7 linked regions of the Homo sapiens genome follow. The protein of the gene in region 7 purifies or fractionates together with the protein of the main gene of each other region. This does not show direct contact. Each region holds a gene or a part of one and is shown on either strand. Other genes may lie near its edges. The genes, in order: TBL1X, NRF1, CRNN, EPB41L2, GRB10, ANO1 and WDR59.

Evidence for each region.
Region 1: the proteins of WDR59 (region 7) and TBL1X purify together in Homo sapiens (affinity purification with mass spectrometry; 2 studies listed by BioGRID and IntAct, with this or other methods). This does not show direct contact.
Region 2: the proteins of WDR59 (region 7) and NRF1 purify together in Homo sapiens (affinity purification with mass spectrometry; 2 studies listed by BioGRID and IntAct, with this or other methods). This does not show direct contact.
Region 3: the proteins of WDR59 (region 7) and CRNN purify together in Homo sapiens (affinity purification with mass spectrometry; 2 studies listed by BioGRID and IntAct, with this or other methods). This does not show direct contact.
Region 4: the proteins of WDR59 (region 7) and EPB41L2 purify together in Homo sapiens (affinity purification with mass spectrometry; 2 studies listed by BioGRID and IntAct, with this or other methods). This does not show direct contact.
Region 5: the proteins of WDR59 (region 7) and GRB10 purify together in Homo sapiens (affinity purification with mass spectrometry; 2 studies listed by BioGRID and IntAct, with this or other methods). This does not show direct contact.
Region 6: the proteins of WDR59 (region 7) and ANO1 purify together in Homo sapiens (affinity purification with mass spectrometry; one large-scale study listed by BioGRID and IntAct). This does not show direct contact.

What each region holds. Positions count from the first base shown.
Region 1 is NC_000023.11:9,685,058-9,688,557, forward strand, and holds part of TBL1X (F-box-like/WD repeat-containing protein TBL1X), read left to right. Parts: intron 1-2,959; coding exon 2,960-3,218; intron 3,219-3,500. UniProt on the Homo sapiens protein: F-box-like protein involved in the recruitment of the ubiquitin/19S proteasome complex to nuclear receptor-regulated transcription units. Plays an essential role in transcription activation mediated by nuclear receptors.
Region 2 is NC_000007.14:129,656,720-129,660,219, reverse strand, and holds part of NRF1 (nuclear respiratory factor 1), read right to left. Parts: intron 2,878-3,500; exon of another isoform or gene 2,875-2,877; 5' UTR 2,869-2,874; coding exon 2,646-2,868; intron 1-2,645. UniProt on the Homo sapiens protein: Transcription factor that activates the expression of the EIF2S1 (EIF2-alpha) gene. Links the transcriptional modulation of key metabolic genes to cellular growth and development.
Region 3 is NC_000001.11:152,411,464-152,415,635, reverse strand, and holds the start of CRNN (cornulin), read left to right. Parts: upstream 1-1,372; 5' UTR 1,373-1,422; intron 1,423-3,389; 5' UTR 3,390-3,402; coding exon 3,403-3,540; intron 3,541-4,172. UniProt on the Homo sapiens protein: Promotes cell proliferation, G1/S cell cycle progression and induces expression of the cell cycle regulator CCND1. Regulates proliferation induced by pro-inflammatory cytokine response via activation of NFKB1 and PI3K/AKT signaling pathways.
Region 4 is NC_000006.12:131,056,746-131,060,245, reverse strand, and holds part of EPB41L2 (band 4.1-like protein 2), read left to right. Parts: intron 1-3,500. UniProt on the Homo sapiens protein: Required for dynein-dynactin complex and NUMA1 recruitment at the mitotic cell cortex during anaphase.
Region 5 is NC_000007.14:50,671,397-50,674,896, reverse strand, and holds part of GRB10 (growth factor receptor-bound protein 10), read left to right. Parts: intron 1-238; coding exon 239-461; intron 462-3,500.
Region 6 is NC_000011.10:70,084,817-70,088,316, reverse strand, and holds part of ANO1 (anoctamin-1), read right to left. Parts: intron 2,900-3,500; exon of another isoform or gene 2,799-2,899; coding exon of another isoform or gene 2,775-2,798; exon of another isoform or gene 2,647-2,774; intron 566-2,646; coding exon 233-565; intron 1-232. UniProt on the Homo sapiens protein: Calcium-activated chloride channel (CaCC). Plays a role in transepithelial anion transport and smooth muscle contraction.
Region 7 is NC_000016.10:74,975,124-74,978,623, reverse strand, and holds part of WDR59 (GATOR2 complex protein WDR59), read left to right. Parts: intron 1-3,500. UniProt on the Homo sapiens protein: As a component of the GATOR2 complex, functions as an activator of the amino acid-sensing branch of the mTORC1 signaling pathway. The GATOR2 complex indirectly activates mTORC1 through the inhibition of the GATOR1 subcomplex.

The sequences.
Region 1 (3,500 bases), on a different chromosome or scaffold from region 7:
GGATGGAAAAATAAATGCACATTAAAACTGTGCACTTGGCTTGGAACCCCTCCCACTTTTTACATTGGTCCACAGTGAGGAGTTGTGCCAATTTTATACCAATTTTGGTTTTAAACCACACACCTCACCCTCTCTTGTCCCCTCCTATTCTGGTCTCATGATTCTGCAGTGAAGATCCCCTTGACTTCTGGGGAATAATGGGATCCACAACCTTTCTTGCCGCCTTCACCTGAGTCCCTATTTTATTTTTAGAGACTGAGTCTCACACTGTTGCCCAGGCTAGGGTGCAGTGGCACAGTCATGGCTTACTGCAGCCTCGACCTCCTGGGCTCAAGTGATCCTCCTGTCTCAGCCTCCCAAAGCACTGGGACCACAGACAGTCCCTGTTACTGATTTCTCAGTCCCCTGCAGCTTCCTCCCTCTGCTTCTCTTTCTCCTACTCTGACCCAGGCGCGTGATTCTACTGAACTTTTCCATACTGTACCGTCATCCATCCCACCTGGCAGTCACATTCTTCCAGGATTCCCTCTGTCCCGTCTTTCTGGGAACTGGTCTTGCCCTTACAAACCTTTCTCCTTCACAGCATGTTACACTGCTTTAAAAAACTCTTTTAGAAAATCACAAAGTAATAATATCCTGTTCTCTTTTTCTTTTCTTTTCTTTTTTTTTTTTTTTTTTTTTTTAAGACAGGGTCTCTCTCTGTCACCCAGGTGGGAGTACAGTGGTACAATCATAGCTCACTACAGCCTCAACCTCCTGGCTCAAAAGATCCTCCTGCCTCAGCCTCCTGAGCAGCTGGAACTTATAGGTACACACCACCACGTCCAGATAATTTTTTTATTTTTTGTAGAGATGAGGTCTCGCTGGTCTTGAACTCCTGGGCTCAAGCGATCCTCCCGCGATCCTCCCGCCTTGGCCTCCCAAAGTGCTGGGAGTACAGGCGTGAGCCACTGTACCCAGTCCCTGTTTTCTTTCTTGCACTTCTGCCTGCCATTTTTCGCAAAGCTGTGGCTTTCGAAACTCCGGTGTTTTTTCCTCTCTTGTGCTCCTTTTTCCCTGGCAAACCCCTTCACACTGTGTGCCCGGGATCTTCCACTGACTCCTTCTGGCCCTGTCTAGTTTCCTCACTGCAAAACACACACGTGTGTATCTAAGAGGACATGTCTCCAAGGTCCAGCCAGCCATCAGATCTCAAGGCGCCTGTGACTCTGTTTTTCTCTGCTCATTGCCTTCTACCTCTCATCTGTTGAGAAGCCTTCATAGTTGCCTTCCCTCGGCACTCCAGATTCCAGCACTCTAGGGGCTAATGAAAGACTGTCCCATTTGTCACAATGGTTTCTAATCATTAAAAAGTGAGACGCCAGGGGCGGTAGCACACATCTGTAATCGCAGCACTTTGGGAAGCCAAGGCAGGAGGGTTGCCTGAGGCCAGAAGTTCTAGACCAGCCTGGCCAATATAATGAGACCCTATCTCTACATAAAATAAAAAAAATTAGCCAGGTGCAGTGGCACATGCTCGTAACCCCAGCTACTCGGAGGCTAAGGCAGGAAGATCAGTTTGGTCCAGGAGTTTGAGGCTGCAGTGAGCCATGACTGTGCCCCTGCACTCCAGCCTGGATGACAGAGCGAGACCCCGTCTCTAAGGAAAAAAGAGAGACAGTGTGCCCGCGGAGTTTAAATGAGGACATGTTGTTACTACTTTGGACAGTTACCGCGTTTTGTCATGGGCTTGTTCATTTGGGTGTGAACATATGAAGGAGGAAGGGGGTGTGGGAGCGTCTTGACCCATCGGTCACCATTGTCCACTCCATGGCCAGAATCAAGGGCCAAGAGTGCCTGAGGAGGTGATGCAGCTAGTTCTTTACATAGGTTGTATTGTTTTCTTTATTTTGAATATTGTCTTGTAATCAGAAATCATCTGGAGTGATGTTTCATTTAGTTATTCTTCAGCTGAAACCTGAGCCTTTCAGTTCTTCCTCACTTCTGAAGTAATTCAGGTTCAGAGCATATAAACATGTGTTTGCACATCCAGATACAACCCCAAGGCTTACTGAGGTTCACCTGATTCGAATATCTGGCGTGTTTCACAAGGAAAGAACCTCCTGCTGTATTTTTAAACGTGTGTGGAAAGTTTTCCATGGTAAACGGAAATCAGAGAATCAAAGAATGGTCAAAAAAACATGAATCAAAACAAAATGATGTCAATTGTGTCATGGCTATGGTTAGTCTAACCCTGAACCCAAGGAGTCATTTCAAGTAGCAGCAAGTGCCTATTTTATTAAATCCCCTGGACAGATGGACTTGGAATCCAGGCCTAAATGCTGTGTGCATCTCATTTGGGCTCTGCTTCTGAAGCGTTACCCTCCCATATAATGGATGGTCATTTGCAGAGATTTTGCACAGTCGCGATAGCACGTGGGCAGGTCTTCTCCACCGCAGCACTCAGTATTTGGGGCTGCGTGTTTCTCTGTGGTGGGGCCATCCTGGGCACTGTTGGATGTTGAGCAGCGTCCCTGGGCTCCACCCACCAGATGCCAGGAGCACCTCTCCTCCCTTAGTTGTAACAGCCAAAAAAGTCTCCAGACGTTGCCTAATGCCCCCCAAGGAGTCACAGTCACCCCCCGCCCCCGCCACGTTGAGAATTGTGCCATCAGGGATAGCACTTTCTGTCAAGAATAAATGGCCTTTTTGTCCTCAATGCCCCAATTGGGTTTGACACTCAGAACAACCATCACACTTAGTTCTTACCAACAGTTTGTCGTGTCCCCTTCCCTGCCCACCGTGGGATCCCTTCACCCCAGGCTCCAGGTCCATGCCGCTTCCCCCGTGGCCCCCTGGTTGCTGGGAGCCAGCTGTTTACGCCCCACTTCCCTGCGCTTCTCCTGCCCAGAGAGCAGAGGCCATTCCCAGAGCCCTCACCCCCGTGAGCTGACAGCTGTACCTTGGCTTGCTTCCCCAGGATGGCACAGTGTTCGACGGCCGCCCCATAGAGTCCCTGTCACTGATAGACGCCGTGATGCCCGACGTGGTGCAGACGCGGCAGCAGGCATTCCGAGAGAAGCTCGCTCAGCAGCAAGCCAGTGCGGCGGCGGCGGCGGCTGCGGCCACGGCAGCAGCGACAGCAGCCACCACGACCTCAGCCGGCGTTTCCCACCAAAATCCATCGAAGAACAGAGAGGCCACGGTGAATGGGGAAGAGAACAGAGCACATTCAGTCAGTGAGTGCAGGGGCTCTGGGAGTTCGGTGGGCCTCTCTGGGTTCATTGTTTTCTTCTTGGGCAAATCCGAATGCCTTCTTAAAAACCTGCCTGCTATAAATGTCTTAGAAGCTGCTCTCTAGTGTTTGCTTACGATCTGGCCGGAAGAACTTCCCGTTCCATTTTTTCCATCACAACCCTTGGACCTGAGCTTCTTCACCCTCATCTTCAACTTTAGGAAATCGTGCTGCGCCTGCTAATCTGAGAACTCTCATGTAACACATGATTATTGCCCGTGATAAA
Region 2 (3,500 bases), on a different chromosome or scaffold from region 7:
ACATGTTGTGGGAAGGACCCGGTGGGAGGTAATTGAATCATGGGGGCAGATCTTTCCCATGCTGTTCTTGTGATAGTGAATAAGTCTCACAAGATCTGATGGTTTTAAAAGGAGGAGTTTCCCTGCACAAGCTCTCTCTCTTTTTGCCTGCTGTCATCCATGTAAGATGCGACCTGCTCTTCCTTGCCTTCCACCATGATTGTGAGGCCTCCCTAGCCAGGTGGAACTGTAAGTCCATTAAAACCTCTTTCTTCCCAGTCTTGGGTATCTCTTATCAGCAGCATGAAAATGGACTAATACAACAGCTAAAGAAGAAAATCTTCTGTCTTTCACAAGCTGAAAGACAGAAGAAACTACACAGAAAGATGATACATACAGAACAGATGGTTAAGAGACATACAAGTGAGGAAGACTAACATAAGTAACTGGAGCCATGGAATGAAAAGAGATGGAATGCAGCAGAAGCAAAATCTCATGGCTAAAATTTCCGGGAGAGGGGGGCAGGCCATGTGGGAGATAATCTTTGAAAGAGTAGCGGTTAGAATGAAATAGCTGAATTCTCAATAGCAGCAATGGAATCCAGAAGACAGTGGAACAGTACCTTCAACATGAGGAAAGAATAACCACCAAGCTAGAATTCCATACTCAGTGAAAACATCCTTCAAGGTTGAAGTTTAAGTAAAAACATTCACAGACAAGCAAAAATAGAACTTGTTACTAGCAGATCCATGTTAAAGCAAATATTAAATGGTGTCTTTAGGCAGAAGTAAAACCATCTCAGGAGACCAGTTGGAGATGCAGGAAAAAAAATTAACATTATTTTTTAAATAAAAATATTGTTCGCTGGATGCGGTGGCTCACGCCTATAATCCCAGCACTCTGGGAGGCCGAGATGGGTGGATCACCCGAGGTCAGGAATTCAAGACCGGCCTGGCCAACAGGGTGAAACCCCATCTCTACTAAAAACACAAAAATTAGCTGGGCATGGTGACGCACACCTGTAATCCCAGCTACTCGGGAGGCTGAGACAGGAGAGTTGCTCCAACCCAGGAGGCAGAAGCTGCAGTGAGCCAAGATTGTGCCACTGCACTCCAGCCTGGGCGACAGAGTGAGACTCCATCTCAAAAAAAAAAAAAAAAAAAAAAAGTCCTGTGGTGTTTAAAATACAGTTGTCCCTTCAAATCCTCTTGAGATTGTTTCTAGCATCTTGATGTGTAGATGCTCAAGTCCCTGATATAAAATGGTGTAGTAGTTTCACATGACCTATTCACGTCCTTCTGTATCATTTCTAGGTTACTAATACTAATATTATAATACCTAATACAGTGTAAATGCTATACAAATAGTTGTTGTATTGGCCTTTTATTTGTATTATTTTTAATTGTTATATTGTTACTTTTAATTTTTTCCTAATACTTTTGATCAAAATTGGTTGAATGTGCAGATGTGGAGCCCACAGATAAAGAGAGCCAACTGTATACCAAAAATGAATACAAAGGACAACAATAGCATATAGGATGGGCGCATGAAATGCAAGTGTTCTAAGAAATTTGTATTATCCCTGTAGAGGTTAAAAGTTCCAAGTACATACAACGTTTTGCTTTTCCTTTTTTTTTTTTTTTTCAACTGGACACAGGCTCTCACTCTGTCACTCACGCTGTAGTGCAGTGGTGTAATCATAGCTCACTGCACCCTCAAACACCTGGGCTCAAGTGATCAGTCATCCCACCACAGCCTCCCAAGTAGCTGGGACTAGGGAGCACGTCACCACACCCAGCTAATTTTTTTTTGGTAGAGATGGGATTGCACTACATTGCCCAGGCTGGTCTCAAACTCCTGGGCTCAAGTGATCCTCCCACCTTGGCCTCCCAAAGTGCTGGGATTACAGGTGTGAGCCACTGAGCCTAGTCAACATAAGGCATTGATAAATAAAGGATGTATGTTACAATTTCTACAGGTATTGATAATAGTAAAAGCTTATAACTTTCAAACTAACAAGAAAAAAATGAAAAAATACAAAATTTTCAATCACTACAAAAGAAAACGCCAAGAAAGAGAAAAGTAAACAGAACAGGTAGGGCAAAGAGAAAGCATATAGAAAAGAAGGTAAATTTAAATCTAAATACATGTCAGTGATTCTGTTTAACGTAATTGGAATAAATGCTTCAGTTTAAAGCCAAAACATAGGCAGAATAGATGAAAAAATAAAACCAAAGCCATAACACTGATAGTAAGTGATTACAGACCTCAAGTCTCAGTATAATACAGGCTCAAGTTATAACTGCAAGGCTTAAAAAAGTTGTGATAAAGGCCAGGCATAGTAACTCACACCCGTAATGCCAATAATTTAGGAGGCCGAGGCAGAAGGATCGCTTGAGCCCAGGACTTTGAGGCCAACCTGGGTAACACAGTGACATTTCTGTCTCTACAAAATATACAAAAATTAGCCAGATGTGGTGGTACACATCAGCAGTCCCAGCTACTCCAGAGGCTGAGATGGGAGAATCACTTGAACCCGGAAGATCAAGGCTGCAGTGAATCATGATTGTGCTGCTGCACCCCAGCCTGAGCAACAGAGTGAGACGCTGTCTCCAAAAAAAAAAAAAAAAAAATTAAAGAAGAGCTTCTAATCCAAACAACACTACCTGCAGCTGCCAGATGAGCTGTCACCTCATCAGCTGCTGTGGAGTTGAGTATATCTGAGTCATCGTAAGAGGTGTCCTCGGGAGAAGAAGGCGAGTCTTCATCAGCACTCAGCATACTATGCTCGGTGTAAGTAGCCACATGGACCTGCTGCACTTGCTGGGCCACTGCATGTGCTTCTATGGTAGCCATATGTTCGGTTTGGGTCACTCCGTGTTCCTCCATGAAGTTCTACTGTCAGACAAAAAAGAAAAAGAACAGGATTCAGTGTGTAATATAACACAATGTTTAAACTAAGAGATATTTTATTCAAGAGCAGAGGAACCTTGACAAAATTCCAATTTCACTACTTACCGTGCCACACCAAGTCACAGGAAATGGGAAGCACCATGCAAATGTGACATAAAAATGACAGAGTGGTGTTCTTACGTGAAACCATTTTGATGGAAATTCGCTGTACTAATTTTATACCTCAGATCACAAAACAACAGATACCCTTAATAATAAAAAGACATTCAAATATAACAATAAAAACATACTTAAGATAGCTCAGTGACTAGCATTTGGCCTTGTGAACATAAGAACACTTAGTAAATAAGTGAAATACTTAACATTTTCTTTGTATGTCAAAGACGAGTGAGAGTCAAATAACTTTTTTCCCAAAAATTCAAATTGGTCTTTCTGCTTATAAAACTGCTTCTTGAGGGCATGGCGGCAAGTGCCTGTAGTCCCAGCACTTTGGGAGGCCCAGGCAGGTGGATCATCTGAGGTCAGGAGTTCGAGACCAGCCTGGCCAACATGGCAAAACCCTGTCTCTATTAAAAATACAAAAAAATTAGCCAGGCGTGGTGGTGGGC
Region 3 (4,172 bases), on a different chromosome or scaffold from region 7:
AAATGGCAGCATGGTGCAACAGAGAGAACACAGGCCTGGAGTCTGAGGGGCTCTAGTCCAGCACCGTCTCCGCTTCACAGAGTGGCTACTTCTCTGAGGATTTCTCAGTGTTCTCATTTATGAATTGGGCTTAGCCATACCACCTCAGAGGATTGCTAGGGAGATCAAATAAGATGAGATGGTAATGAAAATGGAATAAAATCAAATGAAATGAAATGGCAATACCATTATCATTAACCTCTTGGGGACTTACCCCTGGGATGGCCAGGCTATAGACTTCATGAGAGTTGAAACTGCTGCCATCGTATTCAACACTGTATTCCTAGGGCCTTAGCCCTCTGCCTGAAATGGAGCAAGCTTTCCATAAATATTTGCTGATTAGCCACCAGTTGAGTTTCCTGTCCTTGCAATGAGGAGTTACCACATGATCATGGTAAGCCTTTTTTCTCATCAGCTACAAAATGCTACCTACCCATAGCATGGGGTGGGGAAGGTATTAACTTTTTTTGTTTTAATTAAAAATGAGACCAACTTTAAAGAGATGAAACTGGCTTTCTTGTGTCTCATACACTAGGTGTGAAAGGCACTTACAAAACAAGAATTCAAAAAATGTTCTAAGTAATAACAGTTCTAAGTAACATCACCACAAAAACATGTGTGCCCTCTCAGAGTGGCTACTTTGTAAAAGTTAACCTCAATAGATATATTCTTGAACATTTATATTAAAAAAGGAAACAGTGGCCAGGCACGGTGGCTCACACCTATAATCCCAGCACTTTGGGAGGCAGAGGCAGGTGAATCATGAGGTCAGGAGTTCAAGATCAGCCTGTTCAACATGGTGAAACCCTGTCTCTACTAAAAATACAAAAATTAACTGGGCATGGTGGCAGGCACCTGTAATCCCAGCTACTCAGGAGTCTGAGGCAGGGAATTGCTTGAACCCAGGAGGCGGAGGTTGCAGTGAGCCAAGATCGCACCACTGCACTCCAGCCTGGGCGACAGAGCAGGACTCCATCTCAAAAAAAAAAAAAAAAAAAAAAGGAAAGAGTCCCATAACTTTGTAGGCTCATAGAGACAAAGAATGTTCACCAGGACCCCAGCCTGTACCAAGCACTGCTGAGCCCATCACAATGGAAAGAAGCTTCCCTGTCAAGAGGACTCAGCTACAGAAGGTACCAAATGTGGTAGGAGGGGCCTGTTAATTAGACCAAGGCAGTCACACATCAGCAGGTAAAACAGAGACAAGAGGAGGTGTGGCTGGGCTGGGCTGGATCTTGGATGAATCAAGCCTTCCCATAGGGCAGGATATCCTGTCTAAAACAAGAGCCTTGGTTAAAACCCCTATAAAAGGTTCTCATCACACTGACCTGGTACTCCTCACACCACTTAACAGCCACTTGTTTCATCCCACCTGGGCATTAGGTAAGTCCCCTCATAAGAAACCTCTTTCTCATTCTCAGTGTCTTGGTGATCTGAGCTCATAAAACTGGGGCAGTCAGGTATGGACTATGCATCCTTCAGAGCTAGCTGTGAGCACTGGGCAAACCAACGCTACCGTTGGGAAACATGCTCTCCTGAAGCAATCAGGCTTTCTCCTCCTCCCTGAGGCTGGCCTGGGAGCAGCTCCTCTCACTGGGAAACTGTGTGGGCAGCGGCTATGGGGCCACCCATGTGCCTTCCTGGATCAGCAAAGGTTTCTTTTTTCTAAGGCTCTGGAAGCTTCTTTGCAGTGCTGAGAGTCTATGGGATCAGAATCAGTTTACTTATGCCAACCTAGACAATAAGATCAAACTGTGTCATGGATGAAGGGGTTTACATGATTCCCCTCTCCTACACCAGGGTGATATTTAGGCAAAATATGTGTAGATTTTTCTAAGGAATCTAAAATGTAACTAAAAGGTCATCTTATTATTTTATTATCTAAAGGTCAGTGGTTAAAGTCTGCTACATGGTTTTAAAAAAAAAGAAAGATATTTTTCATCTATGTTGAGGAAAACATCCCCAGTTTTTTACCTTGATGAAAAGTTTGCCTGAAATTGTTGGTTACCAGGTCCTAGAAAGGGTTTCTCCTGAACAGCCCACCTTTTGCTATGACTTACTGAGTCCTCATGGCCACACTAATCTGCTTTTTCTAGAACTCAAGTCTCCTTCCTTCCTTTTTTCTCTTTCTTCTCCTACCTATATCTGCCTCGTCCCATCCTCTCTCTGGCTTTCCAGCTGCTACAGGCTCCATCTCCCCTTGCATTTGAGACTTGTCATCTTTGATACCATCTCCTCCTTTGGGTCTCTCCAAGGCTTCTGCTTAATGAATCTTCAAGTCTCTTTTCCTTTTGCTCATGCAACCAAACCCAGGCCTCACCTCAACCTACCTCTAGATTTCTGGCTAATGAAAAAGAAAAGCTTTCCCTTTGATTAGGAACCAACTCATAGGTCACCAGAAATCTGGGCCTGATGGAGCCACGTGCCTGTTGGGCAAGCTGACTTCTCTGATAAGTCTCAGGGCTGTGGACAGAGGCGACATGCAGAGAAACTTGGACCCTCAGAACTGGAAGGCCTCCCACCCAAAGAAGGTTCCCCCCTCCTGAGCATTCCCAGCAGGTGGTAGCCCAGTTTCTTCCCACTTTCCCAAAAAAAACAAGAAGGGAGGGCTGTGTCCCTGGAATTTCTGCTTGGCTCCCATCCAAGACAGGGGTTGACTCACAGATGTATTTACTTCCTTTTGGTGTTCCCGATGGGACCCTAACACCCTTGTGATAAATAAATAAATCCTGTCCACAGGGTACATTCTAGAAAGCCCATTGCATTTGGGTTAAGGAAAAATGGATCCTAGGATTTCTTGGCTCCTTAAAAATTGTGTGGCCTAACTTCTCTGAGCCTGTTTCCTCACCTATAAAAAAAAGTGGAAATAATAAGGATTAGAAGAGATGATGTACAGGAAAGTGATTATATAGGTGTACAAAAATTATATGTGTGTATATGTATATAATAGCATAATAATTATATTTAATAAGGAGCACTTAATATAAGCCAGGCATCTGCCAAGTGCTTTTTATGAATTATGTCTTTAAATCTTCACAATAATCCCACAGAGTACTAATATCACCTTCAATTACAATGAGTAGTAAACTGAGGCATGGAGAGGCAAAGCAACTTGTCCCAGCTCACACCATACTTAAGTGGTGGGGCCAGCATTTAATCCTGACTCAGGAACCTGCCTCCATCCTGTGTGCTCCTCCTTCCCATACATAAGATGCATTATGTAGGAAAGGACAAAGGAAAACTAAAAACAGAGCTGAACGTGCAAGGAAAGACCTAGCAGCAGACGTGCTATAAAGGAAATAGCTGAGGTTGATTATGGAGCCTCCAAGGGAACTTTTCATCTTTTCCAGGTTGACTTCAAAGATGCCTCAGTTACTGCAAAACATTAATGGGATCATCGAGGCCTTCAGGCGCTATGCAAGGACGGAGGGCAACTGCACAGCGCTCACCCGAGGGGAGCTGAAAAGACTCTTGGAGCAAGAGTTTGCCGATGTGATTGTGGTACGGTGTGCTGAGCCGGGTGGAGAGGGGACATAGCAGGAGAGTGAAACCTGGTTTGCCTGCAGAGGCCTTGCCTGGGGAATTTGAGGAGGCAGCAGCTAAACCCAGGCCTGCCGGGACAGATGGCAGCTGTGCAGGCAGAAAAAAAGGTGAAAGAACCAGAGATGGTCATGGGAGTTGGCAAGTCCTGGCTCTTTAGATTAAAACCTTGGTTTTAATTAATTCTAACTTAAAGACAAGGTAAAAGGGCTCTAAAAGGACAACTCAGACAGGAGCAGAGCCTTGGAATATTTCAAAATGAAAATAATTGCTGCTTTCTGCCGCCTCTTAAATTTGATACAGTAAATATTTCCCACGTCTATCTGAAATGTAATCATCCATTCATAGACATTCATTAGAAGCATAGCTCTGGGCTTGCACGAAGCAGTTACTCAAAAATATTAGCAGACTGATCACATCAGAAATGAAATTTTGAAGAGCAGGTTGTTAATAGCTAGGGGGAGACTTTGGAGCCTCACCCCACCCCACCTGGCAAACCAGAACCAAGGCCTTGATGCACTTTCCTGTCTTTGGTTTGCATCTAAAGCAACCAGGATGATGATGGCCTTAGGGACAAGGACATATGGGCACAG
Region 4 (3,500 bases), on a different chromosome or scaffold from region 7:
ATTTTATATAGCAGAATGCTAAATATTTTTGAAGGTTTTGTTTTGTTTCTGTTTCTACTCTGTCTCTACTAAAAATACAAAAATTAGCCGGGCATGGTGGCGCACGCCTGTAATCCCAGCTGAAGACATGGGCCTTTTTCTTTCTTTTTTGAACTGAAGTAGCCTGTTTAAAAGCTATGTGTGGGCTTTTTATTGAAAAGTGTGAATTGCTACTAGTTTTATAAGGCAAATAAACAGTTTATAGGGATCAATACCACTGAGTCACATTTTGCATTTCTAAAATCTGTGCTGTTTACTTGGAGAAAACAAAAGAAATGTGCCTACCTCCTCCATCCCACCTTTATTTAGAAACATTTCCAGTGGGCTTGTTTTTTTCAGATTCAGAATTACTGTACCTAACCACTGGGTACCCTTACAGATTTCAAAGCCTGAAGTAAATGTTTATGCTGGCTTTCGTAGTCAGCAAATAATAGCCAAACCCTAATTCACTGCTCTTTTATAGAATCTTGGAATCTCAGGGCTGAACCGTTAGGAGTCAGCAGATCCACTCTTAGCCCTAGTCTCTTCCTCTCAACATGCAAACAGTTCTAATGTCTTTGGAATGTCTGAGCAAATAGAAGATTTGTATGCGATTCTGTCACCAATTCTAGACAGAACATCCTTTGGGATGCCATGTTTTGGCATAAACCAGCAACTTGATATTATGAGATTTGTATCATTTCTCTGCGTGGGCAGTGCCCTAGACTAAAATCTAAAATGGAGTCAATGCCTGATGTCATTAACTATAGGGAAATGGCCTCCAAGTTAGCTATTAGAGTTGTTTAGGAATTATAGCTGGGCGCGATGGCTCACGCCTGTAATCCCACCTCTTTGGGAGGCTGAGGCGGGTGGATCATGAGGTCAGGAGATCGAGACCATCCTGGCTAACACGGTGAAACCCCGTCTCTACTAAAAATACAGAAAATTAGCCAGGCGTGGTGGCAGGCATCTGTAGTCCCAGCTACTCGGGAGGCTGAGGCAGGAGAATGGCGTGAACCCGGGAGGCAGAGCTTGCTGTGAGCGGAGATTGCGCCACTGCACGCCAGCCTGGGTGACAGAGCCAGACTCCATCTCAAAAAAAAAAAAAAAAAAGTTATAGGTAAGCCAAGAAGGAAAGAAATAAATAATCTCAGTTATCATCTAGAAATGATTTATAGTTTTTGTTGCTGTTGTTGTTTTTATTTTGTTTTTGAGACACAGTTTCACTCTGTCGTTCAGGCTGGAGTGCAGTGACGTGATCTTGGCTCACTGCAACCTCCGTCTTCCCAGTTCAAGTAATTCTCGTGCTTCAGCCTTCCAAGTAGCTGGAATTACAGGCGTGTGCCACCATGCCCGGCTAATTTTTGTATTTTTAGTAGAGACAGGGTTTCACCATGTTGACCAGGCTGTTCTTGAACTCCTGACCTCAAGTGATCCACCCGACTTGGCCTCCCAAAGTGTTGGGATTACAGGTGTGAGCCACCGCACCCAGCCGGTTTATAGTTATAGCTAATAGATTTTGGTAGCTTTTTCTATAAAGTATGTGTATGTGTGTGTATTTCATATGAGAGAGGGAATATTATAGGTATTTGTGATGTGAAGCACCTACTCATTGTATTTAATAAATATTTGATGAATTAATTCATTGAACCTTTAATATATTAGAGGTGAAGAATCTTTAGTGAAGATTCTTTGATAGAGTTGACATAGAAATGGGTAATGTTTCATGTAGAAATATCATGTCGGTAATGTTTATTTGCTTTTCTAACCACTGATATTGTTTCTCCTGGTTTTGTGGTTGGCTTGGGATCTGTGTTGTAAGTTTCTTAGAGGCATGTTTTTCATGTCTAGGAGAGTAGATAGGCTATATATTTCCATGGTGTTGGGATAGTATTAATTTTAATTAGAATTTCAGAGGCTTTCTGAATTTTCTTATTTTAAAGTGATGTCTCTTACTTCTTGGCATTGGAATAGATTTCATGTGATCTATGAGTGCATTCATACTGCTTCTGGATATTTTTTCTTCAAAGATTGCAATTGAGCTAATTTCATATTCTCAGTTATCTTTAAAATGGAAACATGTTTTCACTTCACAGATACCTCTCTGAATTTTGCATATTTTCACTCTACCTTATTAGAGCCATAAAGTCAAAAAGTACATAGATTGTCTCCCAAATAATCTGGAATAAATTGAAGGATAAGAACAATCTTTCCTGAGATCTGACCTGTATCTTAAATAAGGTTTTGCTTTAGATAGCCAAGTTGAAATTTTGCATAGATAACTAAGTTCGGCATCATGGGGATCATTTTAGTTCTTTCCAGGTTAGGAGGCATGGAAAGGCTCCCAAAGTGGTTTTGTCACTGTTCATCTATCGGACCTTATTGCCTAGGTCAGGTAGGGTAGTTCATGCATTTAAATCAAATCTTTCTGAAGAGACCAGTTTCCTCTTGCTTTGCTCTTAGGGCCTCACCATCAACCTTCATGAAAGAATTTTCAAATACTTAAAAACTTATGTTACCCTTCAGTTGCCTTTTTCCAGGATAATTGTGGTTTTAAAAAGCTTGTCATATAGTTCTGATTACCAACTCTGAAGTCACCTTTTCCAAGCCCTTGTATTTACGTTTCCAGACCTGCTGATGAGCTTCAGGGCTGGGCCATTATAACAACAGTGCTGAATTCACTCATATTTTTCAGAGTTTCCTACATTCTACTGATATATGTACATATCCCAGTAGCTTGAAGACATAAAATTAAAATGTGATTTACACTCTGCCATAATTCTTTGTTTCTTTCTCTTTTTGTCCAGAAGCTACTTGTTTTTCACCCTAGATTCATTTACCTTGAGGGAGATTATTTGGTTCAGACTCCTGACCTGGGGTGGAGAGTGGGGTTCTTGGGCCTCATGGGTGCATAAACTGCCTGAGACTGTAAGTGAGGTATTGTGTTCCCATGTGCATGCACTCCTGTGTGTGTGCAGCATCTCTGTGTGTGTGTGCACAAGTGGATGAGAGAGACAGGTTAAGGGAGAAAGAGAACTTTAGGAGTGGTTTTTGAAAGGGTTTTGGGAAACAGAAAAGATTGAGAACTGATGTTTCAGTTCTTATTTTCGAGATTAGAAGATGGAAGTTTTAAGAGTATTTTGTTTTTCTCTTTTTTTTTAATTTTTTCACCCTATTGCACTTTTCATCATTTATTCTCCCCTATCTCCCATTGTACTTCTTTCCATTCAATTGAATTCATTTAGTTGACCCCCATTTACCTAACTGTCAAGGTTAAACTGAATTCTGATATAATCCTGGCCACTCATATTCTTACCTGTGAACTTAATGAATGTGCATTTATTTCCTTACAAATTTCTTTGATGGAATATTGATTAGAAGGAATCAGTAACATGTCCACTCTATTTGATGCTGGTTAGACTGCCACATATGCCATTGTGACCTTGGGCAAATTATTTCTCAAAGCCTCGTTTGCTGTAGTA
Region 5 (3,500 bases), on a different chromosome or scaffold from region 7:
GTAGAAATGCAGCCCAGCTCTAATGATTGAATTGTCTCTGGAATGTCAGTCATGATGAATACATGTAATATGCATGCTTCCATACAGTCATACTTGTCTTGGTGTTTCCCCTCTACCCCTTCCATAATATTTGAAAAATAGGATTGAGGTTTGGAACCTGATCACCAAGATGTACATTTGGGTTTGATTGCTCTCCATTGTTAAAGTTTCTTTTTTGCTCTTGCCTTTTTCTGTGCAGAGGATGATGTGGACCTGGAAGCCCTGGTGAACGATATGAATGCATCCCTGGAGAGCCTGTACTCGGCCTGCAGCATGCAGTCAGACACGGTGCCCCTCCTGCAGAATGGCCAGCATGCCCGCAGCCAGCCTCGGGCTTCAGGCCCTCCTCGGTCCATCCAGCCACAGGTGTCCCCGAGGCAGAGGGTGCAGCGCTCCCAGCCTGTGCACATCCTCGCTGTCAGGTAGGTCCAGGCCTTATGGGCAGAGCCTTCTCCAAGGATGAGAGCTGTCGGCAGGGACACTGCTCTCTGTGAGTTAAATGGTGTTGGGGGGAATAGTGTTGGTCTTGCAAAGTCAAGAGGCAGATACATTGCTTTGATGGGATAACGGATACACTGAGTGTGTGCAGTGTGCCGCCCTTGGGTTGAACTTTGTAGCCAGTTCAATTCCAGTAGTACCTTTTATTGAGTGCCTGCTATGTGCAAGGCACTGTGCTAGGTAGAGGGATATGCAGGAAAACCACCAGAGGAAAAATCTCTGGAAAGATTGGAAGAACAGCCATGGAGCTGATTGCATGCCCCAAGTCCTCACTACCCAGAGTAGGGACGGGAGGCTAGCAGCTACAGCACCCCCTGGAGCTTGTCGTGCAACCCCAGACCTCCCTCAGAGTTGCATTTTGCCACATTCCTCTGCTAATTCAGGGGTAGGCACATCTCTGTGGAAACAGGGAGGCTGGAGGGAGGAACGTGCTGGGGACGTTGAGGGAGGTTCCTGGGAGGTAGGATTTCTGAACGGATGTCAAAGGGTGATAGGAGCTCAGATAGATGGAGGCAGAGGTTTTGTGAGCAGAAGAGATGATGCAGATGGGGGCCGGTGCTGAAGCACTTTGTGTGCCTTTTTCAGGAGCCACGTGAGAAAGAGTTCTGGACAGGCGTGTGAAGGGGCTGGGTTTGGGTTTTGACACCAGCATTCTGGTTGCCAGGGGTCGTGGGGGCAGTGGTAGAGGGCAGCAGGGTTGGCAGAGCATGGCCGGTTTGGAAGTGGTCTCAGGAGCCCCCGGATGGGAGATGATTGTGCGCTGCCTGAGGATGAAGAAGGAGGGGGGATTTGAGCACGTTGCTGAGGAGGAGCAGCTGCGTTTTGCCAGCACTTGAATTTTGCCAGGGCTGTGAGGAGACAGAGAGTGTGTGGAGGGTGACTTGGATTTTGTCTCGAGTGCCTGGGAGGAGGGTGTCTAGAGAATGGTCATGTCGAAGGTGAAGGTGCTGAGAGTACCTTAGACATTCTGAATGAAGATCTTTGTAGAATCAAGCTGAGAGCCAGGGGCAGCCCTCAAGGATCCGCCTGTCTGCCCTGTCGCAGTCGGGATGGCGTGGGGCTCCGTGGGACCCTGCGTGCCTCTCTGGGCCTTTGCGGAGGATGTACAGCCATCTCTGCTGGGACTGCCCCTTGCCCTCACTGGCCTCTGTCAGGATGGGGTTCTGGTGCCTTCTGTCTCAGCACCCCATCTTCCGGGGAGCTCTGTTCATTTCCTGGGCTCTTCTTGCTTCTAGAAACTTCTGAGAGTTTTCTTTGTGGTCTGACATCTTGGGTCTTCCGCAGCCCAGATAATCACCTTGCCCCAGGTGGCAGCTGTTTCTTACGGAGGGGAGAGGGTGCAGCGGCCCTGGCGCCCGTGGTCAGCTGCCTCCCCAGCTTCCCACCCCGGCTTCCCCTCCGACTTCTCACTTTTTGTCATATTCATTGATGCTGAATGATGCCTGTCCCAGGGTTTGTTCAACTTTGCTCTTTGAAGCGTGACCCCTTGTACTTAGCTCCTGAGGAGTTAAGTCTGGTGGGAGAGCTGTTTTTCTCTTGGGAGCATCTCTTGGGAGCATCACAGTAGCCTTGGGGAGTGCCTGGGAATATGGAGGTGCAGTTGCATGGCGAAGGTGCCCGAGGGTGGGCTGGAAAGCCAGAAGGCCTGCCTCCCTGCTGGAGTAGTTGCCCAGGACCCTTGAACCTCGAGTTCTGGCTGAACTCGCCCATATGTGCCCCGGGACTACCTGCGCTAAGTCCCTGGGATGGAGGGGCAGGCTTGCTCTGTGGGACAGCAAAGCCCTCTCCCTACAGGGTCACAGGTGCTGTTCCTTGGGCCCAATGTCTTCTCTCTGGTGTCCTCTCAGATAAGTAGTTTTGTTTCTTACTTTCAGGTGGATTAAAAAAAAATGTGGAGATCAATCTGGAATCACCAAAGATTATTTTGTGAAGTGAGGCCATTTGCTGAGTGCTTACTGTGTGCAGATGCTGATGAGCTCCTCCTTGTTATCAGTGCCCTCGGAGGGAGGCAGTGTGGGTTACCCTCGCTTCCCAGCTGAGGAAACCGTGGCACAGCGGGGCGGTAACTGGGCTCACCACATCAGGTGGGAAGTGGCCATGGAGCAGGCTGCTGGGTACCAGAGGTCACGGAGCATGGTCCACGCTGCAGAGGAACTTACCGGGGGCTGCCATGCAACCCGAAGGGAGCTGGGGGGCAGGCAGGGTATGGGCAGAGGAGACACTTGGGAAGGGCAAGAAGGCTTTGCACATAGGAAAGCCGATGGGTGAGCCGATTCTGTACAGAGAAGGAACCCAGGCTTTTGAGAGTGCAAGGGCCACGCATGTGTTCTAGACAAACACAAGTGAGCCAAGGCACAGAGAAGAAGGACCTCGCCCCTCAGCTCTGCAGTTCCTGCCACCATCCCTGACATCCCTAAATCTCAGCACCCCTCTCCATAGTCACTGTCCCTTCTATTGTGAGCCTCTTTGGTGGGGATTTTTTGTCTTTGTGTGATATCCCTTAGTCTTGCCTTAGGCGATGTCTCTGAGCCGCTTTAAAGTCAACACAGGACTTTTTAAAATGCTCAAAACAACCCAATAAATAGAGAAGCTTTTGTGGACACTAAAACGTCAGATTATCTTTTTGGGGTGAAGTCACTGGCTAGAAGCCGTGGATGGGAAAGTGGCACTGGCCACCCGTTTTATCCATCTCCTCCTGTATGACAATGGCCAGACGTTTCAGTTGGACGCCTTGCCAAGGCTGAAGCTGTTATGGGAAGAGTGGGATTTGTTCACAGTAAAAATAAACTTTATGGCATGTCATCAAACCATTATAGGAACGGCTTTCCTGTATTTCGCAGCACTGATTCCCTTCATGCCATGTGAGTTCTCGTAATTTTAAATCCATGCATCATTTGCTGGTCTACGTGGGATAGTTAGCTGGATCTTCCTTTAAAAAATAGGGAAAGTTGGTAAAAGAGAAA
Region 6 (3,500 bases), on a different chromosome or scaffold from region 7:
GATGGCCTCGATCTCTTGACCTCGTGAACCACCCCCCTCAGCCTCCCGAAGTGCTGGGATTACAGGTGTGAGCCACTGCGTCTGGCCCGTCTGCCCCTTCTTTAAGAACAGCTTAAAGCTAAAACAAGATACCAGCCTCGCACCCTCTGACTATGGAAGCAGCTGCCCCCCTACTGCCCCCCACGCAGCCCACCCCCCACCCCCCACAAACAGCGCGCAGTGAGATAGTTACGTCCTCGTCCCGCTCCAGCTCCAGGCCCGCCTCCAGGAGGTTGCCCTCGTACTCCTCCCTGCGGAAGCGCTTGTCATCCTCGTGGTAGTCCATCGGGGGCTCCCCCGAGCCTGCATCCAGCGACGCCCCCTTGCCCGGCAGGGGGTGGTCCTGCTTGACGCTGCGAGCCCCAGAGGGGGTGTCGCTGTGCTGCACCCTCCTGACCAGGGTCCGGTTGCCCGAGGGCCTCTTGTGATGGTACACCAGGATGTAGTCCACCTTGCGCCGGCCGTCCCTGAAGTACAGGCCATACTTGCACTCGGCATCAGGGTCCACAGATAAGGAGTTCAGCAGCTAAGGGTGGAAGAAAAGACACCCATTCACCATCGAGCTGCTCGTGATGGGCCTTTGGAGGGTGCGCTGCTCCCTTCATCCACTCACTCCTCACTCACTCGTTCAACAAACACTCCCTGAGCGCCCTCCACGGGCCAGGCACTGTCCTAGGGCCTGAGATACACCTGGGAACACAGCAGAAGACCCTGCCTTCAGGGAGCTGAACTTCGAGAAGGAGGTATTCACTGCTAATCATTCATGAAGGTGCCAAGCCACATATGGTCCCCCAGAAGCCCTCCTGGTCTATGGAACTAGAGCAGGCTGGATGTCAGGAACCTCCCTGGCTGCTTGCAAAAAGCTATGGTAGGGGATGGTTAATGGGTACAAAAAATAATGAGAAAGAATAAGACCTAGTATTTGACAGTACAACAGGGGACTATCATCAATAATAATTTAATTGTACATGGACAAATAACTAAAGGAGCATAACTGGGTTGTTTGTAACACACAGGATAAATGCTTGAGGGGAAAATACCCAGTTTTCCATGAGGTGATTATTACGTATTGCATTACCTGTACCAAAATATCTCATGTACCCCATAAATATATACACCCACTATGTACCCACCCAAATTAAAAATTAAATGAACAAACAAAATATCCCCCAGCAACAAAAGCTATGGCAAAAGCTACCAAGTGAATGAGGGCTCCCCATGCACATGGATAGGGGCTGAGGCAGAGCTGAGCTCAGGTTCTGTGCGTGCAAATCTCAATCTCTGATGGCCAGTGTCAGAGGCAGTGCCATGTCAAGGTGGCCACAGGGCCACTAACTAGCTGTGTGTCCAGAGGTGAGGCTTTCACTGTCTTAGTCAGGGCTCTCCCCCAAACAGAGCCTGAGCAGAGGCCAGGGGTGCAAGCGTTTTACTTGGGAGGTGATCTCAGGTGCCAGAGTAGGGTGAAGGGGAGGGAGGCTGACAGGGGTGGGTTAAGGAGCGGCCACCGCTATGTGCAGCTGGGGTCCGTCCTGCTGGGGACCCTCGGAGTGACCTTGAAGGGCACATCCCACTGCCAGTACCCAGAGGGTGAGGAAGTTGGGTGATCATGCACCCGCTCTGGCCCTTTCTTGGCTGGGGGTCACTCCTGGGGTGTTAATGACCCTGCGCTTGCACCTTCCCCACACGTGGCCTGCGGCAGCACCTGCACGGTCAGTCACCTTTGGGTGCAGAGGACAGTGAGCCACTGGTATGGATGGGCACCGCTGGTGGGTGCCCTGGGGTGACCAAGGGGGCGGGGTTAGGGCTCCAACAGGGCCTGCCCTGCCTCAGTTTCCTTATTTGTTTGAAGGACTCTAGGGGGCCACGGGAGATAGCAGTATGGAGCAGTTTGTTTAAAAACCAGATATTCCCACAGTGGCAGTGTGATGGGACCATTGCTAAAGCCAAGCCTGCATTGCTGGAATTCCCGAGGGGTTTGGCCGGTTATCAAGACAGACAGGTCGATCAGCAATCTGGGTTTCCGAAATAAGAAAAAATAAAAAAAGCCATGCTGGGTAGAACCTAACAGGCAACTCCAAGCTGCTAATGGTCCACAGAGCTGTGCCTCATCCCTCGAGCTGGCCGCCTGGTTTCCACCTCAGTTTCCTGTGGCTACGTGAGGACGCTCCCTAGGGCACTATCAGTTCCCGAGGGGCATCATCCGAGAAGAGGGCCTCCCTGATGGAGTGCAGGGACGGCATGCTGCGCCAGGCAGGGCCCGAGCACCTGTGGCCTTTGGACAGAGCTGTGCTTGGGCCTCGCTGGCCTGGAGGGTCCCCCCACGTGGTCGCCTGGAGCCCCTGGGCAGCTTCCGGCTGCACCATGGCTCTAAATGGCTGTGCACTGGTCGGGAAAAGGGGCAGGCAGAATCCCTCATTCGAGGCAGGTGGGCTGTATACAACCCAAAGTGTATCAGGGAAGCCGGAGGGTGGAGCCCCTCCCCAAACAGTCAGCACTGCAGTGGGGGAGAGGGGGAGGGAAGGCCTCGAGTGGAGGCTGTCCTTTTTAGTTGTAGGGGAAGGAGAGAGGAGGCTCTGGGCCAGGGCTGCTGGTTGGGGGCTGCCCCACCTTTCATAGGTGTTGATGTCAAGGGTCTAGACTCCTCTACCCCTGGTTAGGGGACAGTTGGGGCCATGTCCCTGGCACCTTGGCCTCTCTGGCCCTAGGATGCCTCTCCTGGAAACAGCATTGCTCACCACCTGGGAGGGCCTGGTCAGCATCTGGTGCCGGCAGGAGGCTGAAACTAAGCAACTGACTTCTCTCTACAGTAACACAGGGCCCCGCTGTGCTGGTGACCTTCAGGAGGACCTGGACTCAGTGTGCGTGCCCCGCCCACCTTGCCCTCTGTGACAAAGTCTGAGGGTGCTTAGGGGCCACGACCACGCCCATGTGGGTGGGTGGCTTGGGAGGGCTCAGGGGGAAGGGTGGGGGAGGGCTGGCTTTTGAGGGCAGTGGGTTCCCATGCCCAGCCCCATGAAGGACGGGGTTCACGGAAGACCCCAGTATCGCAAGTCTGTAGCCAGCACGGGGGGCCTGCATTCCTTCTGCAGGAGAAGCACGAAAGAGCTATTCTTCTCAATTCGCCAAGGAGGAAACTGAGGCCCAGCAGGGCAGGAGAGCCCGGGTTACAGCGCAGGCGGGAGGCTGAGCTCAGCCTCAAGTCCCATCTGCACGCCCAAGGTGCGGCCCCCCTTAGTAGGAGCCGCGACTAAGGGTGACGCTGTTTCTCGGCCCAGGTATGTCATCTCGCTGAGTCCCCACAAGCTGACCCTATGAGGGGGTTACTATAGTTAGGTCCATTTGACCTGGAGGAAACTGAGGCTCCCACGGGTGAGCTGCCCAGCTCAGTGGCCCTGAGTACCAGACTCCTGCTGGCTGACCCCAGTGCAGGGCTCTGTCTCTGGTGCTGAGGGGCATGGGGA
Region 7 (3,500 bases):
GTGTACTCAATCTCCATCCCTTATCTCTGGCAGCTGCTGATGGGATTTCTATAACAAATGGAATCATGTGATATGATGTGTAGCCTTTTGAGTCTGGCTTTCATTTTTGTTTTGTTTTGTTTTGTTTTTTGAAGGGACAGAATCTTTCTCAGTTGCCCAGGCTGGAGTGCAGTTGCACAGTCCTTGCTGAGTGCAGCCTCCAGCTCCTGGGCTCAAGTGTCCTCCCATCTCAGCCTCCTGAATAACTGAGTCGACAGGCATATGCCACCAGGCCTGGCTCTTTTTTTTTTTTTTTTTTTTTTTGAGACAGAGTCTCACTCTGTCACCAGGCTGGAGTGCAGTCGCACGATCTCGGCTCACCGTAACCTCTGCCTCCTGAGTTCAAGCGATTCTCTGCCTCAGCCTCCTGAGTAGCTGGGATTACAGGAGCCCATCACCACGCCTGGCTAACCATCTTTGCCAGGCTGGTCTTGAACTCCTGACCTCACGATCCACCCACCTTGGCCTCCCAAAGTGCTGGGATTACAGGCGTGAGCCACTGTGCCTGGCCAGTCCTGGGTAATTTTTAAAAATTTTTTGTGGGGGTGGAATCTGGCTGTTGATGCCCAGGCTGGTCTTGAACTCCTGGCCTCACACAGCCCTCCCACCTTGGCCTCCCAAAGTTTTGGGATTACAGGCATGAGCCACCACCCTACCTGGCGTCTTTTGCTTAGCCTAGTGCTTTTGAGATTCATTCTTGTTGTTGAGCCTATCTGTTAGTGCATTCCTTCTTCTTGCTGAGTAGTGTTCCAGTATATAGACTGCAATTTGTGTATTCATTCACCTGTTTATGGACATTTAGTTTTTTTCCAGTTTTTAGTGACTGAAGAAAGCTGCTATAAGTAGATAAGTATCAAGGCCAATTTTTATTTATTGATTTATTTATTTTTCTTTTTTGAGACAGAATCTTGCTCTGTTATCTACGCTGGAGTGCAGTGGCACGATCTCAGCTCACTGCAAGCTCCGCCTCCCGGGTTCACGCCATTCTCCTGCCTTAGCTTCCCGAGTGGCTGGGACTACATGCGCCCGCCACCACACCCTGCTATTTTTTTGTAGTTTTGGTAGAGATGGAGTTTCACCGTGTTAGTCAGGATGGTCTCGATCTCCTGACATCGTGATCTGCCCGCCTCGGCCTCCCAAAGTGCTGGGATTACAGACGCGAGCCACCGCGCCCGGCTGCATTGTCTCTTTCTTATAGATTAAGAAGAGTGTAAAAATTTTTCTGGATTCCAGTTCTGTATGGTTATATATATTGTAAATCCATTCTCCCAAGTTGTAGCTTGCCTTTTCATTCTTTTTATGGTATTAAAAATTTTTTTTTAATTTAAATTAAAATTTTTTTTTTGAGATGCGATCTCGCTGTTACTGTGGCTGGAGTGCCTATTCACAGTCACGATCATGGTGCACTGCCTCCTTGAACTCCTGGTCTCAAATGATCCTCCTGGTTCTGCCTCCCAAGTAACTGTGTCTGTATTTGTGAGTTACCACTCCCAGCTATGTGCTGTCTTTTGATGAACAGAACTTTAATTTTAATGCAGTTAAATTTATGGATTATGCTTTTTCAGTCTTGTTGTTTTTGTTTTCAGACAGGGTCTCGCAATGTCGCCCAGGCTGGAGTGCCGTGATTTTGAATCAGTGCAACCTCTGCCTCCTGGGCTCAAATGATCCTCCTGCCTTGGCCTCTTAAGTAGTTGGAAATGCAGGCACACACCACCAGGCCGGGCTAATGTTTGTATTTTTTATAGAGCCATGTTGGCCAGGCTGGTCTCGAACTCCTGGGCTCAAATGATCCACCTACCATGGCCTCCCAAATTCTTTTTAAGTCTTCTTAAGAAAAATGTTTAGGCCGGGCTTGGTCGCTCACACCTGTAATCCCAGCACTTTGGGAGGCCAAGGTGGGCGGATCACAAGGTCAGAAGATCGAGACCATCCTGGCTAACACAGTGAAACCCTGTCTCTACTAAAAATACAGAAAATTAGCCAGGTGTGGTGGTGGGCACCTGTAGTCCCAGCTACTCAGGAGGCTGAGGCAGGAGAATCGCTCGAACCCAAAAGGTGGAGGTTCAGGGAGCCAAGATTGCGCCCTTGGACTCCAGCCTGGGCGACAGGGTAAGGCTGCGTCTCAAAAGAAAAAAAAAAAAAAAGAAAAGAAAAAGAAAAACGTTCGTATCCTAGATTCATAAAGAAATTCCTCAATATTTTCTTTTATCTTGAAATTGAAAATGAATCATCTCAGCAGAAAGTATACTCTCTTCTGACCTAATAATGGTTGGTGATTTATTAGTCTCAGCATTGCAACAGCTTTGCCACAAAGATAAAGATTGAGGACTGTGTTTTACTCTAATAAAAACTAAAATAAAAAAGCACAACTCAAATTATTTGGCTAGGAGCAAAATTATAAGTAATTAATAATCTGTGTGTTTTTCTGGAGCAATCCAGCTTCGGTTCCTACTTTTTTAGTTTCATACAATGTTCATTTTGAAAAACTATAGAGATGGAGGGGCAGAATAGGACTTTTTGGTGTAAGTGACTATTAATATGTATACTGTGAAATATTTTTTCTTTTTTAAATAAATTTATATATGTGTATTTTAACATCGAGATGGGGGTCTCACTGTGTTGCCCAGGCTGGTGTCAAACTCCTGAGTTTAAGTGATCCTCCCACCTTAGCCTCCCAAAGTGCTGTGATCACAGGCATGAGCCACTGCACCTGGCCTATTTTTTTTTTCTAGAAAATTTAATATAAAGATGTGGTGATGAATGGGAGAAGAACAAAGACGTTAAGGATTTCGTGCCAGACTGTGTTAAGATTTAGGTTATGCCACCTGTCTTCCATGTGATCTTGGGCAAGTTACTTCCTTTCTAAGCTTCAGTTTTCTTTTTTAAATTTTTTTTTCTTTTTTTTACTTTTTTTTTTTTTGAGACGGAGTTTCACTCTTGTTGCCCAGACTGGAGTGCAGTGGCATGATCTCGGCTCAGTGCATCCTCCACCTCCCAGGTTCAAGCAATTCTCCTGCCTCAGCCTCCCAAGTAGCTGGGATTACAGGCGCCTGCCATCATGTCCGGCTAATTTTTTGTATTTTTAGTAGAGACGGGGTTTTACCATGTTGGCCAGGCTAGTCTCAAACTCCTGACCTTAGGTGATCCACCCGTCTTGGCCTCCCAAAGTGCTGGAATTACAGGCATAAGCCACTGTGCCCAGCCTTGTTTTTTTTTGTTGTTTTTTGAGACAGAGTATTGCTGTCTCCCAGGCTGGAGTGCAGTGGCGCGATATAGGCTCACTGCATTCTCCAACTCCTGGGTTCAAGCGATTCTCCTGTCTCAGCCTCCCGAGTAGCTGGAATTACAGGTGTGTGCTGCCATGCCTGGCTAATTTTTGTATTTTTAGTAGAGACGAGGTATCGCCATGTTGGCCAGGCTGGTCTTGAACTCCTGACCTCAGGTGATCCACCGACCTTGGC